Linked DNA regions of Homo sapiens: region 2 is linked to region 1. The links come from fine-mapping of genetic effects on gene expression. A gene starts in region 1. The other region holds a variant in brackets. All regions are shown on one strand. Distances are from middle to middle. Region 1 holds the start of SMURF1 (SMAD specific E3 ubiquitin protein ligase 1). Region 2 has its middle 12 kb from the start of CYP3A7-CYP3A51P.

Evidence for each region. PIP is the estimated chance that this variant, and not a neighbour inherited with it, causes the effect.
Region 2: its variant is the best candidate, but not a certain one, in a credible set for the expression of SMURF1 in whole blood (INTERVAL, PIP 0.62).

Annotation. Positions count from the first base shown.
Region 1 is chr7:99,140,904-99,146,281 of GRCh38, forward strand. SMURF1 (SMAD specific E3 ubiquitin protein ligase 1) reads right to left here and starts at 3,205. Exons shown (of 18, transcript NM_181349.3): 1 at 2,823-3,205. The coding sequence starts at 2,877. It also overlaps a transcript of KPNA7 not described here. RefSeq lists silencers at 2,387-2,436, 2,497-2,826, 2,967-3,466.
Region 2 is chr7:99,744,890-99,750,267 of GRCh38, forward strand. It overlaps the pseudogene CYP3AP2. Among named protein-coding and RNA genes, the nearest start is that of CYP3A7-CYP3A51P, 12 kb to the left of the region's middle. The variant A/G (reference allele first, on the strand shown) is at 2,341.

The DNA.
Region 1 (5,378 bases):
TTCCCTTAACCAGAAAGATGAGACTAAAACCTATTCCACCGTCAACAAACTTCTAGTTCAAACCTTTCGAGGTAAACTAAGGTTCCACGTACTGGCATTGCATGTGTACCATTACCGCTAAACCGCAATCCTATTGTAAGGATGATCACACTCACAAATCCTCTCAAACCATTCATAACATCTACTGAAAGGGAAAGGGAAAGGGAAAAGGTGTTTCAGAAACAACACTCATCACCTGATCCTTCCCTATCAAATGTCATCCAAAAATTCCTCAAAGCATTCTTGCTTCGATAATCTAAATTCCTAAATCCAAAAATAATTTGGTAGGAGGAGAAACCAAGTCCTCCCTTTCAAGGCTCAGGCTTGGCAAATAGGATTGATTAATATACATACACCAGACATAAACATTTCAATTAAAACCTATTCCTTCTAAAACATTCATCATATTTCTAACACAAAATCAGTTGCTTTCGCTTTTAACAAGATAACTGAAACCAATCTGATGTCAATTACAGACTGAGCTGTAAATCAGAACCAAGTTAAAAGCTTTACAAGTATTACAATCTCAAAAATGTTACTTTTATCTTACCACATAAATAAAAATGTATCTACATTGTATCTACAAAGTGAGAAGCGTTTCCTATCAGCCCTGGCATAAAGAAATGTATTTCCCCAGAAGCAAAGATCCCAGAGGAAACTACCTCCTACGTTACAAAACCAGGGTCTGGGTTTGGGTCCAAATCATTATTTGATATCTTTATACAAAAAAACAAAACCTTCTCTTAAGACAAAAGTTGGGCCATGCAACAACTATGGGCTCTCAAAGTAAATTTTAGTTTAAAAAAATTACCTATTGTTTGCATGGATTTTACCGATGACTTTATGGCTGCGCATCTGCCATAAAGTGTTCAAAACGCTCATTCTCTCTTTGAAAGGACCTGACCAAACCAGGACTTTGGAGTTCTCACCCGACTGAGCCACTGAACAGAAAAATCCAGGGGAAAATCCCTGACGGGGATTAGAATGAACTTTTTAGTTTCCTTCCAGAGCTGGAAATATTCGAGTTTGGAAAGTCCCGGAGCAGAGCCGCATTTGCAACACGGCCATCCTGCTTTAGGGATGAATTGAAACTGGAAAGAGAGTAGTACCAATGAGAGTGAGAAAGGGAAGACGAGGATGCAGCCTGGTCCAGAACCTCTGGAGCCCGGGGGGAAACAGGTTGGCATCACATCCGCGCCACCAAGTCGCAGGCCCGCGGCAGAGCGTTGCGCTCACCCTTGAAGGTGGCACTACAGAGCCACCCAGGAAACACGGACTTTTCATTGAAGACAAAATGAATCAAGGAGCCTGCGTGTGGGCAGCTTCCAAAGCCTCCAGTGAGTGTGGGAGTAGGGATCAGAGCCTCACGGCGCTCTGGGTTGCTGAGTGTGGGGGTGATGGTGAAACAAAATGCAGAAAAGGTAAAAATTGAAGAAGCAGAGTTAAAAGTAGCTAGCGGTCTGGCCTAAGAGACAGGAAGTGGCCCAGACTGAGACTGAAGAGGGCTGGACCAGGGGGAAGTGAAGAGAGCAGGACTGGGAGCAGCTACAAGATAGGATTGAGGAATTTCAGGCTGAAGGAAAGAAAGGGTGGAGGCCTCGCCAGACAGCAGCGAGGGGGCGGGGCTAGGCAGGAATGAGGGCGGGGCTTGAAAGTGAGGGGCGGGGCTAGGGGAAGAAGGGAGGAGGACGGTGTGGGGGGGTGAGGGAGAAACGAAAGAGGATGGGGGAGTGAGAAGAGGGTGGGTGGGGGCAGGAGGGGAGAAGCAAGGGGGCAAGTGGAAGGGGAGGTAGCAAAATAGCTTGGAAGTGGTGGGAAAGACCAGGAGGATGAGGGGAGGGAGCAGGTGGGAGGGAAAACAGGAAAGCAAGAGAGATGATGGGAAAGTGGTGAGAAGTGAGGGATGGGACCAGGGGAACAGAGGCAAGGCCAGGAGGGAAAAGCGAGGGGGCAGGTGGGCGGAGAGGATGGGAAGCGAGGAGAAGGAGGGAGGGGGTAAAAACGGCGGAGGAGAAAAAAAGGAGAGAAGCAAGGGGGCGGGACCAGGAAGAAGTGAGGGCCGATGCTAGGAAAGAAGTGAGGAGGCGGGACCAGGAAGAAGTGAGGGCCCAGGCTAGGAAAGAAGTGAGGAGGCGGGACCAGAGAGAAGCGAGGGAGCTGGACGCAGGGAGAAGCGAGGGGGCGGGGACAGAAAGTTAGGAGGCGGGAGCAGAGAGGAGCGAGGGGGTGGGGCCAGAGAGATGGGCGGGGTCAGGTTTGGGGAGGAAAGGTGGGGAAGAGAAAGGACCACAGGGATGGAGGTGAAAGGCAAGGGGGCGGGGCCTGGGGGGAGAAGCGAGGGGTCAGGTGCTAGGGAGAGGAAGGGAAGCGAGAGGCAAGGGGCCGAGCCGGGGAGAGGTGAGGGGAAAGGGCCTGGAAGGAGATGCAAGGGGCGGGGCCAGGAAAAGAGAAGCGAGGGGCGGGGCCAGGGAAGGAGATGCAAGGGGCGTGGCCATGAATGGAAATGAGAGGGGCGGGGCCAGGACGGAGATGCGAGGGGGCAGGTGCGGGGGAACGGGAGGGAACGCGAGACCGAGGGGGCGCGAGCGGCCAGGGGGCGGGGCCGGGCAACGGCGAGGGGGCGGGGCCAGGAGGGAGAAGCGAGGGGCGCACGCCGAAGGGGGTGACGAGGTCCTGGGACAACGGCCGGCGTGGGGGAGGGCCGCTTCCAAGGGCGCCCTGCGGGGAATTCCGGGGCGGGCGAGGGGGCGCCGGGGCGCGGGTGGGCCTCCCGCCGGCCGTACCTGTCAGACGGATCTTGATGCTGGAGCCGTTCCTGCGTGTCCCGGGGTTCGACATCTCCCGCCAACGATCGGGCAGCCGCGGATCCAGCGCCACCGCCCCCCAGCCCGGCCCGGCCCGGCCCCGCCGCCGCCGCCTCAAGGTTACGGCTCCGGGCTGGGCGCCGGGGTCCGAGCCGGGACACAAACTCCGCGGCCCAGGCGTCCGGGCGGCAGGCGGATGGTCGAGCCGGGAGATCGGCGCTTGCTGCGGCGCTCTGACCCTCGCTGCTTCCAGCCGAGCCCAGTCCCGAGCCGCCGCCGCCTCCGCCGCCGCCTCCGCCGCCTCCACCACCTCAGAGCCGGACGCCCGCCGCCCTCGCCGCTTCCGCCGCTGCCGCCGCCTCTCCGAGCCGCGCGCGCGCCCGCCGCCGTGCCGGCCCGGCCCTGCGCGCCCCCGCGCCTGCGTGCGTGCGCGCCCCCGCCACGTACGCTGGGGCGGGGCGGGGTGCGCTGCTACGTCGCCCGCACGCCTGCCTCGGGCGCGCGGGGCCCGGATCCCGCGGGTTGGGGTCTTCACCCTTCCTGTGGTCGGTGGGTGGGAGGGTCTGGCCCCGAGCCCGGGAAGGGAGAGCAGAGCTGGCCCCGGGACCCAGCGCGCGGTCGCCCTCTGTCTTGACCCCTGTCTCTGCGAGGCTCTGGGCTCCTGAGTGACTGAAGAGTGGTTTGCATGAAACCGTGGGCTGTGTCCACACCAAGCTCCTTGCACACAGGCGTGCAATACCAGTTTTTTTCAGTTAAGAGCTTTCGATCGTGCAAGTTCAAGGGAGGGACTTCTCAAAGAGACAAAGCCCTTAGGTGTGTTCTGTGCAACGGGTGTGCTCCACTGACCCATAACAAAGTTGCCAGAATCGCAGAAGTGCCATATACGGACAAGGAAAACGAGATGAGAGGGAGGGATAAAGTTGAGAGGCGGATGTTTGTTATTATCCATTCTGCATACAATTTTACCAAACAAGAAAGTGGCATTGTGGTTTGTGTTCCCATGTCTTCTGCTAAATTTCCCCTTCTCCCGGGGTTGCAGGTTAGAACCAAAAGCTCATGGCTGGGTACGGTGGCTGTAGCCTGTAATCCCAGCACTTTGGGAGGCCGAGGCGGGCGGATCACTTGAGCCCAGGACTTTGAGGCCAGCCTGGGCAACATAGGGAGACTCCATCTCTACAAAAAATACAAAAATTAGCTGGGCATGGTGGTGCGCGCCTGTAGTCCCAGGTACTGGGAGGCTGAGGTGGGAGGATCACTTGAGCCCCAGAGTTCATGGCTGCAGTGAGCTATGATCAGGCCACTGCACTACAGCCTGGGTGACAGAGCTAGACACTGTCTCAAAACACACACACACACACACACACACACACACAGAAAAAGCTCATTATGCGCTTTCTCCAGCAAACAAACTCCTCTCTGTTAGCATGTTATAGAAATAAACTGGTATTATTAGAAAGAGGGAAAACTAGGTTTATCAAACTTGTTTTTTACCCACTACCTTGTTGTTGTTGTTGTTGTTTTTTGAGACAGGGTCTCACTCTGTCACCCAGGCTGGAGTGCAGTGGCACGGTCTTGGCTCACTGCAACCTCCACCTCCCAGGTTCAAGTGATTCTCGTGTCTCAGCCTCCTGTATAGCTGGGATTACAGGCGTTAGCCACCACACCCAGCTAATTTTTGTATTTTTGGTAGAGATGGGGTTTCGCTGTTTTGGCCAGGCTGGTCTCAAACTTCTGAGCTCAGGTGATCTGCCCGCTTCAGCCTCCCAAAGTGCTGGGATTTCAGGCCTAAGCCACCGCTCCCAGACCCCACTACCCATTTTCATGTACAAGTTCTTTTTTATTTTTATTTGATTCTTCATCAATCAACTTGAACAAATTCTTTTAATACTGTGTGTGTGTGTGTGTGTGTGTGTGTCCCAAGGAAAGTAGGCTCTGGGCCATTGCTACCATCCCCTGCAGCCTTGTGCCTGTCCTAAGGTCACAGTCTTCGGAACAGAGCCTTCTACCTAGAGCGCCTAGACATACCTGCCTGCCTGCCCGCCTGCCTGCCTGCCTGCCTGCCTCGGATGACCCTAGTGAAAGCAGAGTCTCTCCTGGGCAGGATTCAAGGCATCACATCTGTCAAATAAAAGGATGGTCCTAGGTCATTTCTATGGCACCTTGCGGCTCTTTCAGTTATCCTCAAGAAAGACCCAAGAATATAAGCAATGTTTAAGCAATAGCAGTAGAGCCACAATCCAGCTGTTTCCATTTGTAGATGATTGTCACAGAGAGTGAATGCCTGGGTCTGAATTAATCCATCCAGTCTCTAATGCTCCCAAGTAATCCCCATTCTTCTGCCAATCCCGTTAGTATTTCCCCCCTATTCAAAGAGTCTCCTCTCTAAACAAAACCAGACATCACTCTCTGCTTACCTGGGTGCAGGCTCCTGTTCTTATCCCCAGGTGTTCCTGACCTGGAAACCTTTCATTGCTTAATTTTGTTGTTTTTCTCCCCGCCCCGACGGCTGGTTCTTCGTTGGCTTGACTGTTTCCT
Region 2 (5,378 bases), 600 kb after region 1:
TAGCCTACCAACCAAAAAGTCCAGGACCAGATGGATTCACAGCTGAATTCTACCAGAGGTACAAAGAGTAGCTGGTACCATTCTTTCTGAAACTATTCCAATCAATAGAAAATGAGGGAATCCTCCCTAACTCAGTTTCTGAGGCCTGCATCATCCTGATACCAAAGCCTGGCAGAGACACAACAAAAAAAGAGAATTTTAGACCAATATCCCTGATGAACATTGATGCCAAAATCCTCAATAAAATACTGGCAAACTGAATCCAGCAGCACATCAAAAAGCTTATCCACTACAATCAAGTGGGCTTCATCCCTGGGATGCAAGGCTGGTTCAACATATGCAAATTAATAAATGTAATCCATCACATAAACAGAATCAACGATTAAAAAACCACATAATTGTCTCAATAGATGTAGAAAAGGCCTTCGACAAAATTCAACAGCCCTTCCTGCTAAAAACTCTCAATAAAGTAGGTATTGGTGGAACGTATCTCAAAATAATAAGAGCTATTTATGGCAAAACCACAGCCAAAATCATACTGAATGGGCAAAAACTTTGAAACCAGCACAAGACAACGATGCCCTCACTCATGACTCTTATTCAACATAGTATTGGAAGTTCTGGCCAGGGCAATCAGGCAAGAAAAAGAAATAAAGGGTATTCAATTAGGAAAAGAGGAAGTCAAATTGTTCCTGTTTGCAGATGCCATGATTGTATATTTAGAAAACCCCATCGTCTCAGCCCAAAATCCTTTTAAGCTGATAAGCAACTTCAGCAAAGTCTCAGGATACAAAATTAATGCGCAAAAATCACAAGCATTCCTATACACCAATAACAGAAAGAGAGCCAAATCATGAGTGAACTCCCATTTGCAATTGTTACTAAGAGAATAAAATATCTAGTAATCCAAATTAAAGGGAGGTGAAGGACTTCTTCAAGGAGAACTACAAACCACTGCTCAACAAAATCAAAGAGGACACAAACAAATGGAAGAATGTTCCATGCTCATGGATAGGAAGAATCAATATCGTGAAAATGGCCATACTTCCCAAGGTAATTTATAGATTCAATGCCATCCCCATCAAGTTACCAATGACTTTCTTCATAGAATTGGAAAAAAAACTACTTTAAATTTCATATGGAACCAAAAAAGAGCCCACATTCCCAAGACAATCCTAAGCAAAAAGAGCAAAGCTGGAGGAATCACGCTACCTGACTTCAAACTATACTACAAGGCTACAGTAACCAAAAGAGCATGGTACTAGTACCAAAACAGGGATATGGACCAATGGAACAGAACAGAGGCCTCAGAACAAACACCACACATCTACAACCATCTGATCTTTGACAAACCTGACAAAAACAAGCAATGGGGAAAGGATTCCCTATTTAATAAATGGTGCTGGGAAAACTGGCTAGCCATATGTAGAAAGCTGAAACTGGATCCCTTCGTTACACCTTATACAAAAATTAATTCAAGATGGAATAAAGACTTAAATGTAAGACCTAAAACCATAAAAACCCTAGAAGAAAACCTAGGCAATACCATTCAGGACATAGGCATGGGCAAGGACGTCATGTCTAAAACACCAAAAGCAATGGCAACAAAAGCCAAAATTGACAAATGGGATCTAATGAAACTAAAGAGCTTCTGCACAGCAAAAGAAACTACCATTAGAGTGAAAAGGTAGCCTGCAGAATGGGAAAAAATTTTTGCAATCTACTCATCTGACAAAGGGTTAATATCCAGAATCTACAAAGAACTCAAACAAATTTATAAGAAAAAAACAAGCAATCTCATCAAAAAGTGGGCAAAGGATATGAACAGACACTTCTCAAAAGAAGACATTTATGCAGCCAACAGACACATGAAAAAATGCTCATCATCACTGGCCATCAGAGAAATGCAAATCAAAACCACAATGAGATACCATCTCACACCAGTTAGAACGGCGATCATTGAAAAGTCAGGAAACAACGGGTGCTGGAGAGGATGTGGAGAAATAGGAACACTTTTACACTGTTGGTGGGACTGTAAACTAGTTCAACCACTGTGGAAGTCAGTGTGGCGATTCCTCAGGGATCTAGAACTAGAAATACCATTTGACCCAGCCATCCCATTACTGGGTATATACCCAAAGGATTATAAATCATGCTGCTATAAAGACACGTGTACCCGTATGTTTATTGTGGCACTATTCAAAATAGCAAAGACTTGGAACCAAGCCAAATGTCTGTCAATGATAGACTGGATTAAGAAAATATGGCACATATACACCATGGAATACTATGCAGCCATAAAAAAGGATGAATTCATGTCCTTTGTAGGGACATGGATGA[A/G]GCTGGAAACCATCATTCTCAGCAAACTATCACAAGGACAAAAAACCAAACACCTCATGTTCTCACTCATAGGTGGGAATTGAACAATGAGAACACTTGGACACAGGAAAGGGAGTATCACACACCGGGGCCTGATGTGGGGTTGGGGGCGGTGGGAGGCATAGCATTAGGAGATATACCTTGTAAATGATGAGTTAATGGGTGCAGCACACCAACATGGCACATGTATACATATGTAACAAACCTGCACGTTGTGCACATGTACCCTAGAACTGAAAGTATTATATAAAAAAAAAGATCCAAGTTTGATAGACAACCACTATCTCATCTCAGTTACATCCACTCCTTCCTCAGACTCACTAATAAAGTGCAGCCTTTGAATAAAAAGAAGTAAAGCAGAACCCCTTTTTTGTGTGTCTCAAAGCTGCAAAAGACGTCATGGGGAGTAAGAGCTAAGGTAGAGCCATGGAAAAACCCTTAGGGAATTTAGCATTTGTTGGAGATGATTCAAGCAGGTGCAAATGACCCAATGGTAAATACTTGATCTCCCTAATAAACTGAGTTTCAAAGCTGTCCAGGAGGAAGGGGGAAAAGGCTACTCATGAGCTCTTGCTACAGAGAAGAAAGTTTGACTCTCATGTACACAGATAACAAGCCACAATCAAGGGATCCTGTTCCGACTTTTAATACTAACAATGACTGTACTTTCCTGGGAACCTACACGGAGCAAAAAGAAAATCTTCTTTATGGTGTTCACAAAGTCTGCATATCAAGTTTTGAACATCAGGTTGCTGATCTACCTGAGATTTGGGCTGTTCAAATTAGGCAAATCTGAGGTTCCTGAGAGTTAGCAAGAGAGCCCCTGTGTAAACATTGCCATGCTCTGGGTGATGCCTACACACTGTTTCTGAAAGGGTAAAACCTCAGACCTTCCTTTTGCAGAGAAACATTTTTACTGATGGAACTAAGCTGCTGTTTGCAATCATAAGAAGCCAAAGAGTGAGCTCAAAAACACTCACTTGATGGTAGGACAAAGTAGTTCCCAAAAAAAGCAGAGGTCTGGGACCTGGAATGCCAAGATTTTTAAAAAGTCCATGTGAATGGGTTTCATATCTACAAAGTGAAACAGAAATCATGTCTCAAGGATTGTGACTTTATAGATATAGGGGATGGTGAGTTACTGACTGAGGAAATGTAATGCTCAGGAGAAGGAGGTAACATTAAGGCAATAAATAACAGTAACTCCGACAGCAATGATTATGTTTGTTCATCAGGTCCTTTCCTGCCTGCACTGTGACACCCCAAAAGTCACAGTGATTAGCTAAAAGCAGCTGAAGTTTTCATGGTCCCAATCCTGGAGTGAATACTTGATAAGTGTCCTCAAACATGAGTGCTCCTGAGAGGTTCAGGCAGGAATTCTTCCAGGGCACTTCATTCCTTTATGTCTATTTAGTAAGTGGACCCCACTGATTTAGGGCTTCTCATCCTAGGTAGAAAGGGTGACTTTTTTTTTTTGTCTTCAGCAGTAATGGTTAGATTTTGCATCGCTGCATCCACTCAGTCACAGAGGGTCACTGAGAGCCTATTGTGGCCCTGTCTTTAGAATTGCTCAAAGGCTTTTATGCTTTCCCTTTCTGCTAAGCTCTGACCCTGTTTTAGGATCTGGCCCTTCTTAAACTGTCATTCACAGAGAGGTCTTGGAGGAGTCAGAGTCCTTATTTCTACAGATTGACAACTGTGCTCCAGGCTTCTACTGGCCTCGTAGAAATGCGAGCACCTTTCAGCTACACCTCAGTCTCTGTGGTCAGATGATCTGGTTGATTTCAGCTATGGGGGAGAATGATTGACTCATATTGCCCTGAATGACAGTGTGCAGAAGAATCACAACTTAAGAAACCAATTTCCAGGACATTCCTCCTCTTGTGGAATCTAGCCTTCCAACTGGTGATATTCATCTGATAAGCACAGTGCCAGTGATATGGTCTGAATCTGTGCCCCTACCCAAATCTCATGTTGAAATGTAACCCCAAATGCTGGAGGTGGGGCCTGATAGGAGGTGATTGGATCCTAGGGGCAGTTTCTCATGGTTTCACACCATCCTGCCTTCGCTGTTGTCCTCGTGACAATGAGTTTTTATGAGATCTGGTGGTTTATAAGTGTGTGGCTCCTCCTCCCCACCCTCTCTTGCTTCTACTACAGCCATGTAAGATCCGCCTGCTCCTCCTTCACCTTCTGCCATGATTGTAAATTTCCTGAGGCCTCCCTAGAGGCAGAAGTCGCTATGCTTCCTGTAGAGCCTGCAGAACTATGAGCCAATTAAATCTCTTTTCTTTATAAATTACCCAGCCTCAGGTATTTCTTTACAGCAATGCAAGAAATGACTAATATATCCAGACATGCTCATTTTTTCAAGGTGATCAATCACAAAGCAGTCAGTTTATTGCCTCTGTACATTGACTATCTCTGTAGGAAAACCCATTAAGGCTGCTGCTCTTTATGGCAGGCCTGCTTGCAACTCATCTTTGATGGGTCATGTATGGACTCCCCCAACTGGGGGTTCTGGATGTCTGAAGACCTTCCCAGTCTGATGTTACTGAGGAGCGGAGGACTAGAGGAAGAAGAAAGGCTGATGGCAGACATCACCAGCCATCAATTCAACCGTGAATCTGCTAGTCCCACAAGGTTGGCCCCAGAGAGGCAAATTAGGAAAATGCAGCTGAAAAGTATGGTGTATATAAATGGATCCATATGCCTCATATGTGCTTTCAGCTGAAAGGCAGGGGCCTTCTAATGTCCATGTACCTTCCTGTTGATAGCAAAAGATGCAGTATTTTACATAAGTAACCATAAAATGTTCCAGATAGTTGAATTAAGACCTTGTTTTCTCTTCTATAACAGGTAGCACTTAAGGCAGTATAGGTTCCAAACATTCTGTACAAATCCAGTGACTCTGATAATATGTGGTAAAATACAACTGAGAAATGGCATGGAGGGTCGTGTTTGGAGATCCCAGCAGAGGCAGCATATAGTGCATTTGG